Linked DNA regions of Homo sapiens. The protein of the gene in region 4 purifies or fractionates together with the protein of the main gene of each other region. This does not show direct contact. Each region holds a gene or a part of one and is shown on either strand. Other genes may lie near its edges.

Evidence for each region.
Region 1: the proteins of ARFGEF1 (region 4) and BORA purify together in Homo sapiens (affinity purification with mass spectrometry; one large-scale study listed by BioGRID and IntAct). This does not show direct contact.
Region 2: the proteins of ARFGEF1 (region 4) and AKAP10 purify together in Homo sapiens (affinity purification with mass spectrometry; one large-scale study listed by BioGRID and IntAct). This does not show direct contact.
Region 3: the proteins of ARFGEF1 (region 4) and TATDN3 purify together in Homo sapiens (affinity purification with mass spectrometry; one large-scale study listed by BioGRID and IntAct). This does not show direct contact.
Region 5: the proteins of ARFGEF1 (region 4) and HTR1E purify together in Homo sapiens (co-immunoprecipitation; one large-scale study listed by IntAct). This does not show direct contact.

The regions. Positions count from the first base shown.
Region 1 is NC_000013.11:72,748,422-72,751,946, reverse strand, and holds part of BORA (protein aurora borealis), read right to left. Parts: intron 1-3,525. UniProt on the Homo sapiens protein: Required for the activation of AURKA at the onset of mitosis.
Region 2 is NC_000017.11:19,957,317-19,960,841, forward strand, and holds part of AKAP10 (A-kinase anchor protein 10, mitochondrial isoform 1 precursor), read right to left. Parts: intron 1,256-3,525; coding exon 698-1,255; intron 1-697. UniProt on the Homo sapiens protein: Differentially targeted protein that binds to type I and II regulatory subunits of protein kinase A and anchors them to the mitochondria or the plasma membrane.
Region 3 is NC_000001.11:212,808,873-212,812,397, reverse strand, and holds part of TATDN3 (deoxyribonuclease TATDN3), read right to left. Parts: intron 172-3,525; coding exon of another isoform or gene 151-171; coding exon 70-150; intron 1-69. UniProt on the Homo sapiens protein: Exhibits 3'-exonuclease activities and apurinic/apyrimidinic (AP) endonuclease (in vitro). Show preferential AP endonuclease activity on double-stranded DNA substrates and 3'- exonuclease activity on single-stranded DNA.
Region 4 is NC_000008.11:67,333,782-67,337,281, forward strand, and holds part of ARFGEF1 (brefeldin A-inhibited guanine nucleotide-exchange protein 1), read right to left. Parts: intron 1-3,500. UniProt on the Homo sapiens protein: Promotes guanine-nucleotide exchange on ARF1 and ARF3. Promotes the activation of ARF1/ARF3 through replacement of GDP with GTP. Involved in vesicular trafficking.
Region 5 is NC_000006.12:86,944,018-86,947,542, forward strand, and holds part of HTR1E (5-hydroxytryptamine receptor 1E), read left to right. Parts: intron 1-3,525. UniProt on the Homo sapiens protein: G-protein coupled receptor for 5-hydroxytryptamine (serotonin). Also functions as a receptor for various alkaloids and psychoactive substances.

The DNA.
Region 1 (3,525 bases), on a different chromosome or scaffold from region 4:
CAGTCCCCCTTGTTTGTTACCATTCAAAGGACCTTGCCTTCCATTACTACTTATGTTTTTGCTTTTATTATTATTTTAAACTGACACACAATTACACATATTTATGATGTACATGATATTTTGATATGTTTACAATATGTAATGATCAAATTGGGGTAATTAGCATATCCATTAACTCAAACATTTATCATTGCGTTGGGAACTTTCAAAATCTGCTCTTCAAGCTATTTGAAAATATACGATAAATTGTTAATTACACTCACCGTATAGAGCTATAGAACACTAGAATTACTCCTATCGAGCTGTACTTTTGTATCCATTAACCAACCTCTCCCTATCCCTGCTCCCCCTACCCTTCCCATCCTCTACTACCTACCACTATTCTATACTCTTCTATGAAATCAACCTTTTTAGCTTCCACATGAGGGAGTACATGTGGTATTTATCTTTCTGTGCCTGGCTTATTTCACTTAATGTCCTCCAGTTCATCCATGTTGCTGCAAATGTAAGGACTTCATTATTTTTTATGGCTGAATAGTATTCCATTGTGTATATATACCACATTTTCTTTATCCATTCATCTATTAGTGGACACTTAGGGTGATTCCATATTCTGGCTATTATGAATAGTGCAGCAATAAACACTGGAGTACAGGTATCTCTTTGACATACTGATTTCCTTTCCTTTGGATATATACCTACTAGTGGGATTGCTGGATCACATGGTAGTTCTATTTTTAGTTTTTTGAGGAACTTCCATAATAGCTGTACTAATTCATATTCCCACCAACAGTGTTCAGGCACTGTTTACTTATATTAATCACAATGATCATGCTAATATCCTGTAATCCTATTATTATCCCCATTTAAAGAAGAGGAAACAAGCTGAAAGAAACTGTCACTTTCTGGGATTTATAAAGCTAACAGAGCTGGGCTATAAACTGAAATCTGCCATTACGGTTTCCCAAGCCCATGTTCTTTAATGCCATGCTCGCGCCTCAACTAAATACATTTGCACCCACACCCATCCTGGCACCCTGCCCTCCTTTAAACATGGAGGAGTTACTGCGGCTACTCCTATCAGGGTTCTAGATTCTACCCCCTCTTGCATGCCTCAGTTCCCTCATTTATAAAACAGATCACCATTTGACAGATGACGATATCTATTATATCTGTAAGGTATTACAGGGATTAGCTTCTGACTGTAAAATGCTTGGCATGGTCTCTGGTACTTGAAAAGGACATGTGACTGATACCTATTAATAATTATATTAATAATTATGCTGCCCAACTCCTAGTTTTTAAAAATCTTCTCTCTCTTCATTTAAATGCTGTATGCTGTTTCTTCTGTGTTCCATTACTGGAACACTAAGCATGTGGGAGTTACTTATACCCTGTTGTTCAAGGTCATCGCCAAGGTCTGATTGCAAAAATTCAAAAAATTGCAACCTTAGGCATAAATGGGTTAAGTAAAAACAAAGTAAAAAAGCAAACTACAAAAAGATCTGACTTTGATGCTCTTCTCTAGGTATCATTTTCTTTCCCTTCACAACTAAACTCCAGAGTTATCTACACACGTTATTTCATTACTTCTTCTTTAACCTTCCTTCCATTCACCTTGAGGCTGTTCAGTTATTAATTACTTTTCTTATTAGTCCATTAGCCCCTTTTCAAGCCCAATGTTGCTTGCTCCTATTTTGGCAATGCTAACCATTCTTTCCTGCTTAAAATGCTTCATGACACTGTGCTTTCTAAGTGTCCCTTTCTCCTCTTTGGCTGGTTCTTTTCAGTCTCCTTCAGGGGCTGTACTTCCTTTACCTGATCCCTCTCAATTCTTCCTCAGAGTTCCAAATCCTGGCTCCCCGTTACTCTCAGTAAATACCATCCCTCTGGTTGAACTTAACCTACGTATTCGTTCTGTTTTTGTTACACAAATATTTAATGAGCGGCTATTACGTGACGGGTTCTTTTTAATAAGCACTGGGGATAAAAACATGCATGACTGCTGCATTAGTGGTCTGATTGGAAAGAATGCAAAATGTGCATGGAATCATGAAAGCATATAATGAGGTCTGGCCTGGCTAATGTGATCTGGGAAGGCTTGAGGATGTAATCAATAAGTTGTCAATGAAAAAAATAAATAGGAGTTAACTAAGTAAAATGGGATAGAAATGCTACATAGCATGTGCAAAAAGGCCCTGTAACAAGAGAAAACGTGGCTTTTTAAAACTTTGGAAAGCTAGTGGGACCTAAACAGAGAATGAAGGAAACAAGCTGGAGAGTAGAAAGACCAGCCTTGCCAGCCACATTGCAGACTTTTAAAATTAGTACCGAACGCATTTCAAAAGTGTAGAAAATAAAAAACTCAATAGAAAGGTTATTATATAAACTGGAGGAAATTGCCCAAAAATTCAAAAAAGGAGATTTAAAAAAAAAAAGATTTTTAGAAATTGGAGAATCAAAAGTTGCTCCAGAGAGAACACTAGAAGCAGCAGAGGAGAAATCTAAGATATTATTCAAGAAAAGATCCAAGAAGTGAGGGGAGTAAGTTTACAGACTGTAAGGGCATTCTGAGTGAAGAGTATAATGGATGGAAAGAAACCCGCATTAAAGGACATCACTGAAATTTCAGAACCCTGTAGACAAAGAAAAATGCCTATCCATGTCCAGGGAGTTGGGGATAAAAAGAGATCATAAACAAAAGATTAAGCACTGAAATAGCTTCAGATCTCTCACTGAAATGGAAGCAATGCCTTCAAACTCTGAAGGACATTTCTGAACTCTCAAATGTGAGAGACGGACACATGATCACACATGCAATGTCTTTAGAAATGTACTCTTCCTCAGAAAGCTAGCAGAAAGCTAACCATGTGGCAGAAATGTAATGTATGAAACATTTTTAGTAGACATTATGATGTTATGGCCCAGAGAGTAAAACTGAGACTGCTTGGGGGGTATCACATAACATATTTTTACCCAATAGAAGGAAGAGGTTGTAATAGTAAGAGAAGTTAAAAAATGAATGGAATAGCCCTGCAAGTGTAATTAAGCATAGATAGTTTGACAAGTTAGTAGTGACTACAATTATGGGAGAATATGCTACCCACGGCTTCCAAAGGTTAGTTGGATTAGATGATGATTAAGGTGTATTTCAACAAAAGTATTTTGTAATTCCTCTATATAAAAAAGAGAGAGAGAGAGAGAGAGAGAGAGAGAGAAAGTGAAAAAAGGCAGAGAGTAAAAGCAGCAAACAATGCCTTTAAGGCATATACTTTTAAGCCTATATGTGCTTTTTTCTATTTATGAAACCAACTTTAGAGAAGCTAAAATATGTAAAAGTGATTCTAGTATAATCTTTTTTGAGCAATGAAGCTGTAAGTCAGGATAGGCAACAGAAGCATAAAAATATGAGCAAAATACTATATTTAATTTTGGGTCATTTAGAATCCTTCCCTGAGTTTTAACTTCAGCATGCCAAAACTGACAACACTAAAGCCTTATAGAGTTGGTGTGAGAATTAAATGA
Region 2 (3,525 bases), on a different chromosome or scaffold from region 4:
GGATCACAAAGTCAGGAGATCGAGACCATCCTGGCGAACATGGTGAAACCCCGTCTCTACTAAAAATACAAAAAAATTAGCCGGGTGTGGTGGCAGGCGCCTGTAGTCCCAGCTATTTGGGAGGCTGAGGCAGGAGAATGGCATGAACCCGGAGGTTGCAGTGAGCCGAGACCGCGCCATTGCACTCCAGCCTGGGCGACAGAGCAAGACTCCATCTCAAAAAAAAAAAGATAATCATGCCTACTACCTGCACAAAGGTCTTGTGACTAATAAATAAAATCCAAATATACACTAAGCACTGAACTTAATAAATGTCACTTATTGGCAATTTTTAAAAATTTTTTAAAAATTTTATCTGCAAAGTGCAGTAAAATATTAATAAAATTAAGACCGAGGGAGGAAATAAGGCTATGTGGATAATGGTTTGATGTCAAAATCAGTGGAGGGGAAAAGTAGGACATTTGACCCTTCATTTACTAATTCTGATAACACACTTCTTAGAAGGTCCAGTCACTCCTGCTCCTTTTCCATACACTGATCTGACTCTACTACACTCTCCAAATTCTCCCAAATTTACAAGTAGTTAGAGGAGAAAAAAAATATTCCAATCATTTTATTCCTCATCTGAAGTTCTGCTTAGTAAATTAAAAAAAGAAAGTGAGACACATATGTACACACAAGAAAATCACATACTCACTTTTCATTAGTTTTCCTGACAATTCTTTTAGTGGAGAAGCGGGACTATTTCTACTGGCTACTGTAAGTGTAGAGGAAGATTCTTGGGTTTCCATGGAAACTTGGTGAGTTCCTGCTCTGGCCATTTCAAGACGGAGAGAATGGGCACTGTCACATTCCTGGGAAAGCAGCAAGTGATTCTGAGTGCTGTTAGTTCTATTATTCAGGTCAATTCCTTCTGAATGAGTCATAAACAACTGTGCTGAGCCAGAATCCTCCAATCTCTTATCAAGAGAATCAGTTAAAAAAGACGCTGTAGTTTCATGCTTTTTAGATGGAGAGACAGGCTCAGCCAGTGAGCTCTGCTTCACTGTGTTTAGACTGTGTGCTCTTATTCGCGACCAAGTTGTTGAATGAAAACTTTCAGCCTCTAACCAAAATTTCACCAAATGCTCCATTCGCCGAAGTTCCATGAATTGAATGAAGTAAGGGAGGACAATAGTGTCGTGCAAGACTTGTTCAAGGGTCTTAGAAAGGCTTGATTTGGTCTCTTGAGTCTGGTAGTCCAGACAAGATCTGCCTAAAAGATAGAAGCAAAAGAATTAGCAGTTCAGCAACAAATAATTTCAGATTGACAGATTAGTCAATCACTTTTAGCAACAACTGGTACCAGAGACCTTGAATAAAGTTTACTTCCTAGCAACTAAAGTAAATAAAAAAACTACAAATACTATGCTTTTGGTTTCTAAACAAAGTACAATCGTCCAAAACTTGCCTAAATTATTAAAAAGTTATTTGTTACTCAATAATTCTCATATCTCTTTTAATGGCAATTCAGACCATGTAAATTCTTTTTTTTTTTTTTTTTTTTTTTTTTGAGACTTTTCACTCTTGTTGCCTAGGCTGGAGAGCAATGGCGCGATCTCGGCTCAATGCAACCAACCTCCACCTCCCGGGTTCAAGCGATTCTCTTGACTCAGCCTCCTAAGTAGCTGGGATTACAGGCACCCGCCACCACGCTGAGCTAGTTTTTGTACTTTTAGTAGAGATTCGGTTTCACCATGTTGGTCAGGATGGTCTCAAACTCCTGACCTTCGGCAATCCACCCACCTCGGCCTCCCAAAGTGCTGGGATTGCAGGCGTGAGCCACTGCGCCCAGCCCAGACTACATAAATTCTTAAGAAAAAAAACTTATGATACTAGTTCCAAAGGGGCCAATAAAAATATTAAAAACTATACTCAACCTCATTAAAAATCCCAGAAAAGCAAATTAACATAAAATGCATTTTTGTCTGTCAAATTAGATTTTTTTCAAAAATTATTAAGCAGTAACAAGGGCACAGGAAAATAGGCAACACTCTCATTCGCTGGTCATGAGGATGTAAACTGGCAAAACCTTTTTGGAGGAGCATTCAGGAACAGATAGCAAAGTCTTAGCAAACTGCATTATTTTCAGTCCAGTAATTCCACTTGTAGGCACTTATCCTGAGGGAAAATTGTGGATATATCTACAAAGATGTTATGAACTCAGCATTATTCATTCATAGTAGGTTAAAGAGTAGCTTTGAGATCGTACCTTGAAAAATGAAACTAAACTTAATAAAAAATCATTTATCTTATATTTAACTAAATTTAAATTATAACCACAAGCTAATTGTTAGGAAAGACAAAAAATTTTTTTAAAAATTGGCTTTCATAGCATGATCATAAAGATGGGCATTCTTATAAAACTGACTGAGGGTTTCATCAATTTGTCAAAAGAGTTCTTCTTAATCCATTGATATTCAAATCATTTTTTTGAAGCACGTCGTGTCTTCATCCTCAGTCTTACTGTCAGTGTCAACTAGTTCATCTTTGTCAACATCACAAACTTGAGGAAATTCTGATCTTCTGTGAGGTTTACAATTTCTTTTAATTAAATTCTATGAGATAATGCTAGATTCACATGAAGTTCTAAGATACAATACTGAAAGGGCCAGGCATGGTCGCTCACGCCTGTAATTCCAGTACTTTAGGAGGCTGGGGCAGGCGGATCACTAGAGCCCAGGAGTTCAAGACCGGCCTGGGGAACATAGTGAAACCCCATCTCTAAAAAAATAATAATACCTAGAGATCCCTTGTACACTTTAGTTTCTCCCATGGTAACATCTTGCAAAGCTATAGTACAATATCACTCTAAGATACTGACAGTGATACAACACTCTAACTTGTTCAGATTTCCCCAGTTTTATCTATACTCATTCTTGTTTTTAGTTCTTTGTAATTTTATCACATTGAGATTTCTGCATCCACTGCCAAGATACAACTTCAACATCACAAAGATCCCTCATGTTGCACTTTTATAACTACACCCACTTACCCCTCTCACCTCCCTGTCTCTAACATCTGGCAAACACTAATCTTTTCATTTCTCTTAATTTCTCTATTTCAAGAATATTATCCAAACGGAATCATACTATATGTAGTCTTTAGGGACTGGTTTTTGTCTGACAGCATAATTCCCTTGATATTCATCCAGGTGGTTAAATGTATCAACAGTTTGTTCCTTTTTATTGCTGAATGGTATTCCATGGTATGAATGAACCAGTTCATTCACCTGCTGAAGAACATCCAGTTTTTCAATATTAAGCTGCTATGAACATTTGTGCACAGGTTTTTATTGGAAGGTAAGTTTTCATTTATCTGGGATAAATACAGAGTGCAACTGCTAGGTCATATGGTAATTGCATGTTTCACGTCATAAGAAACCACCAGCCAGGGATGACGGCTCATGCCTGTAATCCCAGCACTTTGGGAGGCCGAGGCGGGCTGATCACCTGAGGTCAGGAGTTCAAAACCAGCCTGACCAAC
Region 3 (3,525 bases), on a different chromosome or scaffold from region 4:
CAGCTAAATTGAAAAGAACTCAAATGAAAGATACAATCTAAATAATATAGAAATTAGAAAACCATTTACCTGTTTTTCTGGTCCTAGTGCAGGTGAATCTGTTTCTAAGCATATAGAAGTTAAAGGCAATTGTTTCACAAGTTTCTGCTTCTTAGAGAAAAGAGAAAGCAGCTAAGTTTAAAACATGAGAAATAAAGATAAAGAGCATTAAATTGACATACTAATAATGCATTTTATTCTGCAATAACTTAAAATTTATGCTTTAGGCTGGGCGCGGTGGCTCACGCCTGTAATCCCAGCACTTTGGGAGGCCGAGGCGGGTGGATCACGAGGTCAGGAGTTCAAGACCAGCCTGACCAACATGGTGAAACCCCGTCTCTGCTAAAAATACAAAAATTGCCAGGCACAGTGGCTCATGCTTGTAATCCCAGCACTTTGGGAGGCCGAGGCAGACAGAACATAAGGTCAGGAGTTCAAGACTAGCCTGGCCAACATGGTGAAACCCCATCTCTACTGAAAATACAAAAATTAGCCAGGCATGGTGGCAGGCACCTGTAATCCCAGCTACTCAGGAGGCTGAGGAAGAAGAATCACTTGAACCCGGGAGGTGGAGGTTGCAGTGAGCCGAGATCACCCCACTGTACTCCAGACTGGGCAGCAGAGCAAGACTCCATCTCAAAAAAAAAATAATAATAATAATAAAATAAAAATACAAATACAAAAATTAGCCAGGCAAGGTTGCAGTGAGCCGAGATCACGCCACTGTACTCCAGACTGGGCAACAGAGCGAGACTCCGCCTCAAAAAAAAATTATTTTTTACTATTCAACTGATAGGCCGGTTGTGGTAGCTCGCGCCTGTAATCCCAGTACTTTGGGAGGCTGAGGTGGGTGGGTCACTTGAGACCAGGAGTTCGAGACCAGCCTGGGCAACATGATAAAACCCCATCTCTACTGAGAATACAAAAATTAAGCCGGGGTGGTGGCTCATACCTGTCCAGCACTTTGGGAGGCCAAGGCAGGCTGATCACTTGAGATTGGAAGTTCGAGACCAGCCTGACCAACATGGTGAAACCCCGTCTCTACTAAAAATACAAAAATTAGCCGGGCGTAGTGGTGGCTGCCTGTAATCCCAGCTACTCGGGAGGTTGAGGCAGAATCACTTGAACCCGGGAGGCAGAGGTTGCAGTGAGCTGAGATCGCGCCACTGCACTCCAGCCTAGCCAGAGTGGAAAAAAAAAATACAAAAATTAGCCAGGCATTGTGGTACACGCCTGTAATCCCAGGTACTCGGAAGGCTGAGGCAGGAGAATTGCTTGGACCTGGGAGGCGGAGATTGCAGTGAGACAAGATCACATCACTGCACCCCAGCCTGGGCGACAGAGTGAGACTCTGCTTCAAAAAAACAATTCAATTGATAAATGCTAACTGGATGTTCTCATAATTCCACTACTAAAAGTTATGTTAAAATATAAACACTAATTCCTAAAAATTATCCAAAGCTTCTAGGGAAACCAAAGAATAGTAACCATAGCAAAAATGAGGTATACCCAGCAAGCAGAAATCCAAACATCTGGTATCATGTGCCGACATTGACAAGGAAGTGATTTCTGTTGTTTCTCCACCCTCATCACATTCAGTGTTTCTTTCTAACATCCACTTTAAGGCACTCAAAGCTTTATGTTTATAAATCTAAGGGTTTTGTTTGTTTTTGAGACACAGTCTGGCTCTGTCACTCATGTTGGAGTGGAGTGGCACGTACTCGGCTCACTGGACCCTCCATCTCCTGGGCTGAAGACATCCTCCCACCTCAGCCTCCCAAGTAGTTGGGACTATAGGCACACACCACCACACTCGGCTAATTTTTTTTTTTTTTTTTTTTTTTTTTGAGACAGAGTCTCGCTCTGTCACCCAGGCTGGCGTGCAGTGGCGCGATCTCGGCTCACTGCAAGCTCCGCCTCCCGGGTTCACGCCATTCTCCTGCCTCAGCCTCCCAAGTAGCTGGGACTACAGGCGCCCACCACCATGCCCGGCTAATTTTTTGTATTTTTAGTAGAGACGGGGTTTCACCATGTGAGCCAGGATGGTCTTGATCTCCTGACCACGTCGTGATCCACCCGCCTTGGCCTCCCAAAGTGCTGGGATTACATGCGTGAGCCACCGCGCCCTGCCTTCACTCGGCTAATTTTTATATGTTTTGTAGAGACAGGGTTTCGCCATATTGCCTAGGCTGTTCTCAAATTCTTGAGCTCAGGTGATCCGCAACCCTTGGCCTCCCAAAGTGCTGAGGTCACAGATATGAGCCTCCGTGCCTGGCCCAAATCTAAGGTTCTTATGCAATTTAAATTTTATTTTTTTATTAATTAATGTATTTATTTTTGAGATGGAGTCTCTGTCGCCCAGGCTGGAGTGCAGAAGCGCGATCTCAGCTCACTGCAACATCTGCCTCCTGGGTTCAAGTGATTCTCCTGCCTCAGCCTCCTGAGTAGCTGGGATTATAGGCATGCGCCACCACACCCAGCTAATTTTTGTATTTTTAGTAGAGAAGGGGTCTCACCATGTTGGCCAGGCTGGTTTTGAACTCCTAACCTCAGGTGAACTGCCTGCTTTGACCTCCGAAAGTGCTGGGATTACAGGTGTGAGCCACAGTGCCTAGCCCAATTTAAATTTTAGATTGGGTTGTGGATGGTTTTCTTTTTTCTTTTTTTTTTTTTTGAGACGGAGTCTCGCTCTGTCACCCAGGCTGGAGTGCAGTGGCGCGATCTCGGCTCACTGCAGGCTCTGCCCCCCCGGGTTCACGCCATTCTCCTGCCTCAGTCTCCCGAGTAGGTGGGACTACAGGCGCCCACCACCATGCCTGGCTAATTTTTTGTATTTTTAGTAGTGACGGGGCTTCCCCGTGTTAGCCAGGATGGTCTCGATCTCCTGACCTCGTGATCTGCCCGCCTCGGCCTCCCAAAGTGCTGGGATTACAGGCATAAGCCACTGCGCCCGGCCTAGTTTTTAATTTTTAAAGCTATAATTCACATAACCATAATATTCACTCTTTAAAAGTACACAATCCAGTGTTTTTTGCTATATTCACAAAATTGTACAATCATCACCATTATCTAGTTCTGGAATATTTTCATCACTCCAAAAAGAAATCCCATACCCATTAGCTGTCACTCCCTATTATCCTTCCCCTCAAAATTCTGGAAACCACTAATCTATATTGTGTTTATAGATCTGCCTCACCTGGACATTTCACATGAATGGAATAATACAAGATGTGGTTTTTCGTCTGGTTGCTTTCTCTTAGTATAATGTTTTCAAGGTTCATCCATGCTGTAGCATGACTCAGTACTTCATTTCTTTTCATGACTTTATTCCTCTTCATTCCTTTTTATGACTTTATATTCCATTATATGGATATAGCACATTTTATTTATCCATTCATCAGCTGACGGAAATCTAGGTTGTTTCTACTTTTTGGCTATTATGAATAATGCTGCTATAAACATTTATGTACAAGTTTTTGTGTGGAC
Region 4 (3,500 bases):
ATCTCACGTGATGGGTCACAGTCAAAACACAGTCAAAATTTTGTTTCATGCACAAAATTAACAACAGTGCATAAGACCAGGTGCAGTGGCTCATGCCTGTAATCCCAGCACTTTGGGAGGCCAAGGTCAGCGGATCACCTGAGGTCAGAGTTTGAAACCAGCCTGGCCAACATGGCAAAACCCCATCTCTACTAAAAATACAAAATTAGCTGAGCATGGTGGCGCATGCCTGTAATCCCAGCTACTTGGGAGGCTGAGACAGGAGAATCACTTGAACCTGGGAAGCGGAAGTTACAGTGAGCTGAGATCGCACCACTGCACTCCAGCCTGAGCAACAATAGCTAAACTCCGTCTCAAAAAAAAAAAAAAAAAAAAAGAATAGTGCATAAAATTACCTTTGGATTGTGTATAAGGTGGATGTGAAACATTAGTAAATTTTGTGTTTAGACTTCAATCTCATCCCCAAGATATTTCATTATGTATATGCAAATATTCCAAAGTCCAAAAAAAAAAAAAAAAACAAAATTGAAAACATTTCTGATCCCAAGCATTTCTGATAAAGGATATTTAATCTGTACTTCAAAAAGTTAACAGTGTTTCAATGAAGTAACACTTCATCATAACAACTAGGATGGCTAAAAATAAAAAGGCAGTAACAAATATTGGTGAGAATTTGAAGAAACGGGAAGCCTCATACACTGCTGGTGGGTATGTAGGCTGGAAAAGAATTTAGCAGTTTCTTAAAAAGTTAAACATAAATTTATCAAGTGGCCCACCAATTCCCTTCCCAGTTTGTCTACCTAGGACAAATAACAGTTTACGTCCACACAAAGACTTATACACAAATATTCATGGCAGTATTATTCATTCAACCCAAATATCCATCAACTGGTAAATGGATAAACAAAATATAGGATATCTAAACAATGGAATGCTATTCATCAATAAAAGGAAATGAAGTGTGGATACAAACTTCATGAATGAACCTCAAAAACATACTGAAAGAAACCAGACACTAACGACCACCTGTGTATAACTGCATTTCATGAAATGTCCAGAAAAGGCAACTCTAAAGACAGAAAATAGATTAGTGAATGCCAGAAGCTAGGGATGACAACAAGGGCACTACAGATTTTATTGAGGTAATAGAAATGTTCTAAAACTGGATTTATGCTGATGGCTGCATAATTCAGTAAATTTACCAAAAATCATTACACTCAAAAAAAGTAAATACTATAGTATGTAAATCATTTATCAGAAAGTTGTTTTTCAAAAAGTTAACAGTAGTTATTTATCTTCAGCTAAGAGTATCACGGTAAATTTTTTTTTTTTTTTTTTTTTTGAGACAGAGTCTCACTCTGTCACCCAGGCTGGAGTGCAGTGGCGCAATCTCGGCTCACTGCAAGCTCCGCCTCCCGGGCTCACACCATTCTCCTGCCTCAGCCTCCCAAGTAGCTAGGACTACAGGCGCCCGCCACTACGACTGGCTAATTTTTTGTATTTTTAGTAGAGACGGGGTTTCACTGTGTTAGCCAGGATGGTCTCGATCTCCTCACCTCATGATCTGCCCGCCTCAGCCTCCCAAAGTGCTGGGATCACAGGCGCCAGCCACCACGCCGGGCCCCGTATCACAGTAAATTTTATTGTTGTAGTTACACTTTTGAAAATGATTTGAAGGATTCGTTTATAAAAAATATCAAATTACCAAACTTACTGGAATTATAAAAGCATACAGACTGAGTAAAAGCCATAGAGATTCTCTTCTATATAAAGTGCTTGGCCTTCAAAATATGTACTTTGACTGCTTATATTTTTATTATTTCTTAGCAAAGTTCTGACAGATGAGGATTGTTAAACAGCTGATTAAATGAAGTCTCAATGTACACATTTTTGTTAAGAAAAATTAATAGCCTCACATGGCGTTTCCTAAAGACACGCCAGTGGTAATATGAAATATTTTAAAGATTTTCTTTTTTTTTTTTTGAGACGGACTCTCGCACTGTCTCTCGGGCTGGAGTGCAGTAGCACAATCTTGGCTCACTGCAACCTCCGCCTTCCAGGTTCAAGCGATTCTCCTGCCTCAGCCTCCTAAATAGCTGGGATTACAGGCGCCCACTGCCACCACGCCCGGCTAACTTTTTGTATTTTTAGTAGAGACGGAGTTTCACTATGCTGGCCAGGCTGGTCTCGAACGCCTGACCTCATGATCCACCTGCCTCGGCCTCCCGAAGTGCTGGGATTACAGGCGTGAGCCACCGCGCCCGGCCATTTTAAAGATTTTCAAAGACTTTTCTGAATGAAAAGATAACATAGGTTATATAAACAAATTTAGTTACATCAAGTCTAAGTCTAAGCAAAACAAAATATCAAAAGCAGAACACAAAACTTTTTAAATATTCTTAAATACTTGAGCCCAGACCTTTTAAGAAGCTTTTCAAGAGCCTCTACTTATAACACACTAAAGCCTCAGAATAACTGCTTTCTAGATTCATGAAACAATCAGAGATGAGCCAAAGACAGGATCTGATTGTGTAAACATATGTACAGTAGACTCTGTAAGTGGAAACTTGAATAAAGAAATCAAAATGGGTCTGAAAAGTTAGGATAAAAGGGAACTTGCATTCATTTCCTAAGGCTGCCTTAATAAATTACCATAAATTTGGTGGCTTAAAACAACAGAAATTTCCTCTCATAGTTCTGGTGGCCCAAAATCTAAAATCAAGGTCACAGCAGAGCTATGCTACATCCAAAGGGAAGAATCCCTCCTTGCCTCTTCCTACTTCTGGTGGCTTCTGGCATTCCATAGCATGTGGCAGCAGTAACTGATCTCGTCTCCATTTTCACATGGACTTTTTCCTTTGTATGTGACTGTGTCCCTTCCTCTTCCTTAAAAGGACACCATTCACTGGATTTAGGGCCCACCTAAAGGCTCTAAGTTGAGGATCTCAACTTCACCTTGAGATCTTTCACTACATCCACAAAGTTCCTATTCCAGGAAAAGAACCAGACAAGTGAAAGGCTCATTTCTTTGATAAAAAAACCTCCCTGCAAAAAACCTGACAAGGCAGGCCGGGCGCGGTGGCTCACGCCTGTAATCCCAGCACCTTGGGAGGCCAAGGCAGGAGGATCACAAGGTCAGGAGATCGAGACCATCCTGGCTAACACGGTGAAACCCCATCTCTAATAAAAATACAAAAAAAATCAGCCGGGCGCGGTAGCGCTACACGAGATTAGCTACTCGAGAGGCTGAGGCAGGAGAATGGCGTGAACTCGGGAGGCGGAGCTTGCAGTGAGCCAGGATCGCGCCACTGCACTCCAGCCTGTGTGACAGAGCGTGACGCCGTCTCAAAAAAAAAAAAAAAAAAAAAAACAGACAAAACAAATTGAAATTATTTTGTGTTATTCTCAGTAGAAAATATCCTATTATATCATCTGAAAATTCTATCATTAAAACATTCTAAAATACATATAAAAGGCAGGATGAAAATGTTTTACTGTCT
Region 5 (3,525 bases), on a different chromosome or scaffold from region 4:
GCTGTTGACAAGCCTCAGGTCCCAGCTGGCTGCTGGCTGGAGACGTTCTTTTGCTACCACATGGACCTCTCTATAGGGCTACTAACAAAACAGAGTGCTTCATGCAGATGTTGCAGCTTGCTGTCCTTGGAGCAAGGGCTAAGATTGAAAGATAGCAAAATAGAAGCCAAGGTCTTTTTGTAACCTGATATCAGAAGTGATATCCCATGGCTTCTGCTGTGTTCCTCATTAGAGACAAGTCACTAGTTTCAGCCTAATTCAAGGGGAAGGGATTACACAGTGGGAGGAATACCTACAGGAACCAAATCATTGAGAGCCACCTGAGATACTGCCTGCCACAATATAAGACATCAGAAGCTGTTTGATAAAGACTCAATTCAGTATCACCTCGTGGTTTTATCTCATAGTAATGTTCTCAGACTGAAATTAGATAATCTGTCAAAGAATTTGTAAAATATAAAGCTCTATACAATATCAAGATTTTATTAGTTTTATTAATGCTGAGAATCCAGTTCCACTTTATAGATAGTGATATAAGAACAGCAAATCAATGATTAAGAGATGTGAATTTTACACCTTGCTGTGTGTGTGACCTTGGAAAAGCCATTTATTTGTTTCATACCTTAGTTCTCTCATGAAAGTGATGATAATAACAGACTTACCAGGATAAAATAGATAATAGACAGCCATGCAGCACATTGACAATATTTTGGTCACCCACAAACCACATATATGACAGTGGTCCCACAAATTATAATGGAGCTGAAAAATTCCTACAGCCTAGTGACATCATCGCTATTGCAATGTTGTTGTAGCACAATGTATCGCTCATGTGCTTGTGATGAGGCTGGTGTAAGCAAACCTGTGCTGCCAGTTGTATAAAAGTATAGCACATACAATTATGTATAGTATATAATACTTGATAATAAACAACTGTTACTGGTTTATACATTTACTGTACTATACTTTTTATCATTATTTTGGGGTGTGTTCCTACTTAATTAAAAAAAAAAAGTGAAAAGAAGTTTAACTGTAAAACAGCCTCAGGCAGGTCCTTCAGAAGGTATCCCAGAAAACAGCATTGTTATTACAGGAGATGACAGCTCCATGCATGTTATTGCCCCGAAGGACCTTCCAACGGACAGGATGTGTAAATAGATACAGTGATACTGATAATCCTGAGCCTGTGTAGGCTAAGGCTAATGTGTCTGTATCTTAGTTTTGTTTGTTTGTTTGTTTGTTTGTTTGAGACAGAGTCTCAGTCGCCCAGGCTGGAGTGCAGCAGCACAATCTCACCTCATTGCAACCTCCGCCTCCCAGGTTCAAGCAATTCTCCCACCTCAGCTTCCTAGTAGCTGGGATTACAGGCACTCACCACCATGCCCAGCTAATTTTTTGAATTTTTAGTAGAGACGGGATTTCACCATATTGGCCATGCTGGTCTTGAACCCCCGACCTCAAATGATTCGCCCGCCTCAGCCTCCCAAAGTGCTGGGATTACAGGCGTGAGTATCTTAGTTTTTAACAAAAAAGTGTGAAAAGGAAAGAAAAAATTTAAAGTTTTAAAAATAGAAAAAAGTTTATAAAATAATGTTATAAATAATGAGAATATTTTTGTATAGCTATACAATGTGTTTTAAGCTAAGTGCTATTACAAAAAGAGTCAAAAAGGTTTTTTTAATTTAAAAGTTTGGGGGTTTTTTGTTTTGTTTTTGTTTTTGTTTTTGTTTTTTTGAGATGACGTTTCTTTCTTGCCTCCCAGACTGGAGTGCAGTGGCGTGGTGATCCCAGTTCACTGCAACGTCCGCCTCCCCAGTTTCAAGCAATTCTCCTGCCTCAGCCTCCCAAGTAACTGGGATTACAGGCATGTGCCACCATGCCCAGCTAAATTTTGTATTTTTAGTAGAGATGGGGATTCACTATGTTGGCCAGGCTGGTCTCAATCTCCTGACCTCAGGTGGTTTACCTGCCTCGGCCTCCCAAAGTGCTGGTATTACAGGCATGAGCCACCACACCCGGCCTAATTAAAAAGTTTATAAAGTAAAAAAGTTATAGTAAGATAAGGTTAACTTATTATTGGAGAGAGAAAAAATGGTTTTTACAAATTAGGTATAGCTTAAGTGTACAGTGTTTTTAAAGTCTACAGTAGTGTACAGTAATGTACTAGGCCTTCATATTCGCTCAACACTGACTCACTGACTCACCCAGAGCAGCTTCTAATCCTGCAAACTCCATTCATGATAAGTTCCCTACACAAGTATCCCATTTTTTATCTTTATACCATATTTTCACTGTACCCTTTCTACGTTTAGATACACAAATACTATTGTGTTACATTTGCCTACAGTATTCAATACAGTAACATGCTGTCTGGCTTTGTAGCCTAGAAGCAATAGGCTATGCCACATAGCCTAGGTGTGCAGTAGGCTACACCATCTAGGTTTGTGGAAGTACACATCTTGATGTTCACACAATGATGAAATGGCCTAACAATGCATTTCTCAGAATGTATGATGCATGGCTATATATAAAATTATGCTGAAATCTAAAAAAATGAGATGATGGTCATAATGACAATGATGAAGATGACTATATGTTTCAGCTTCTACTCCATGGTCCTTTGAGGACAACTGAAGTAACTAGATATGATTTTTGTCAGTTGTGTTTTAAGTGTATGTATCAAATCCAGCTACCCCAAGTTTTACAATAACTTTATATGGTTTAATCTTATCTTGCTGAACACATTAGATATGCTGCCCTGAAAAGTGGCTTGCAAACAGAATTTTTAGAAACTGAACCATAATTAAAATGCACAGAGGCCGGGCACGGTGGCTCACACCTGTAATCCCAGTACTTTGGGAAGCCAAGACAGGCGGATCACCTGAGGTCAGGAGTTTGAGACCAGCCTGACCAACATGAAGAAACCCTGTCTCTACTAAAAATACAAAATTAGCCATGCGTGGTGGCACATGGCTGTAATCCCAGCTACTCAGGAAGCTGAGGCAGGAGAATCGCTTGAACCCAGGAGGCGGAGGTTGTGGTGAGCCGAGATCGCGCCATTGCACTCCAGCCTGGGCAACAAGAGCGAAACTCTGTCTCAAAAAAAAAATGCACAGAGAAGGTTTCCATGTATCTAGTGGAATTGTACAATGCTTATGTGATCTTGTGATATCATTAATATTTTGTAATATAAATAATTATCCTCATTATTTTAATTTTCTGGCATTGTAGCAACACCTGTATAAATATTTATAGTTACTTAAGAACTCACAAAACAACCTTTTGAAGTAGGCAAATAAAACCAACTCTTGGTTATCTCAAAGAGTTCTTTTTGTTTGATTCTTGTGTTATCTACATTTCTTCTCTCACTGTAAATTGGCATAAATTTGGCAGATACAAAACAAGTAAAGTTCAAACTCCTCCACTCAACCACTTTAAGGGATTTTTTTTCCTGCTTATAAGTATATCACATGTTCATTGTAGAAAATTTGGAAATGCAGAAAAGTATAAAAAATGTAGTTAAAG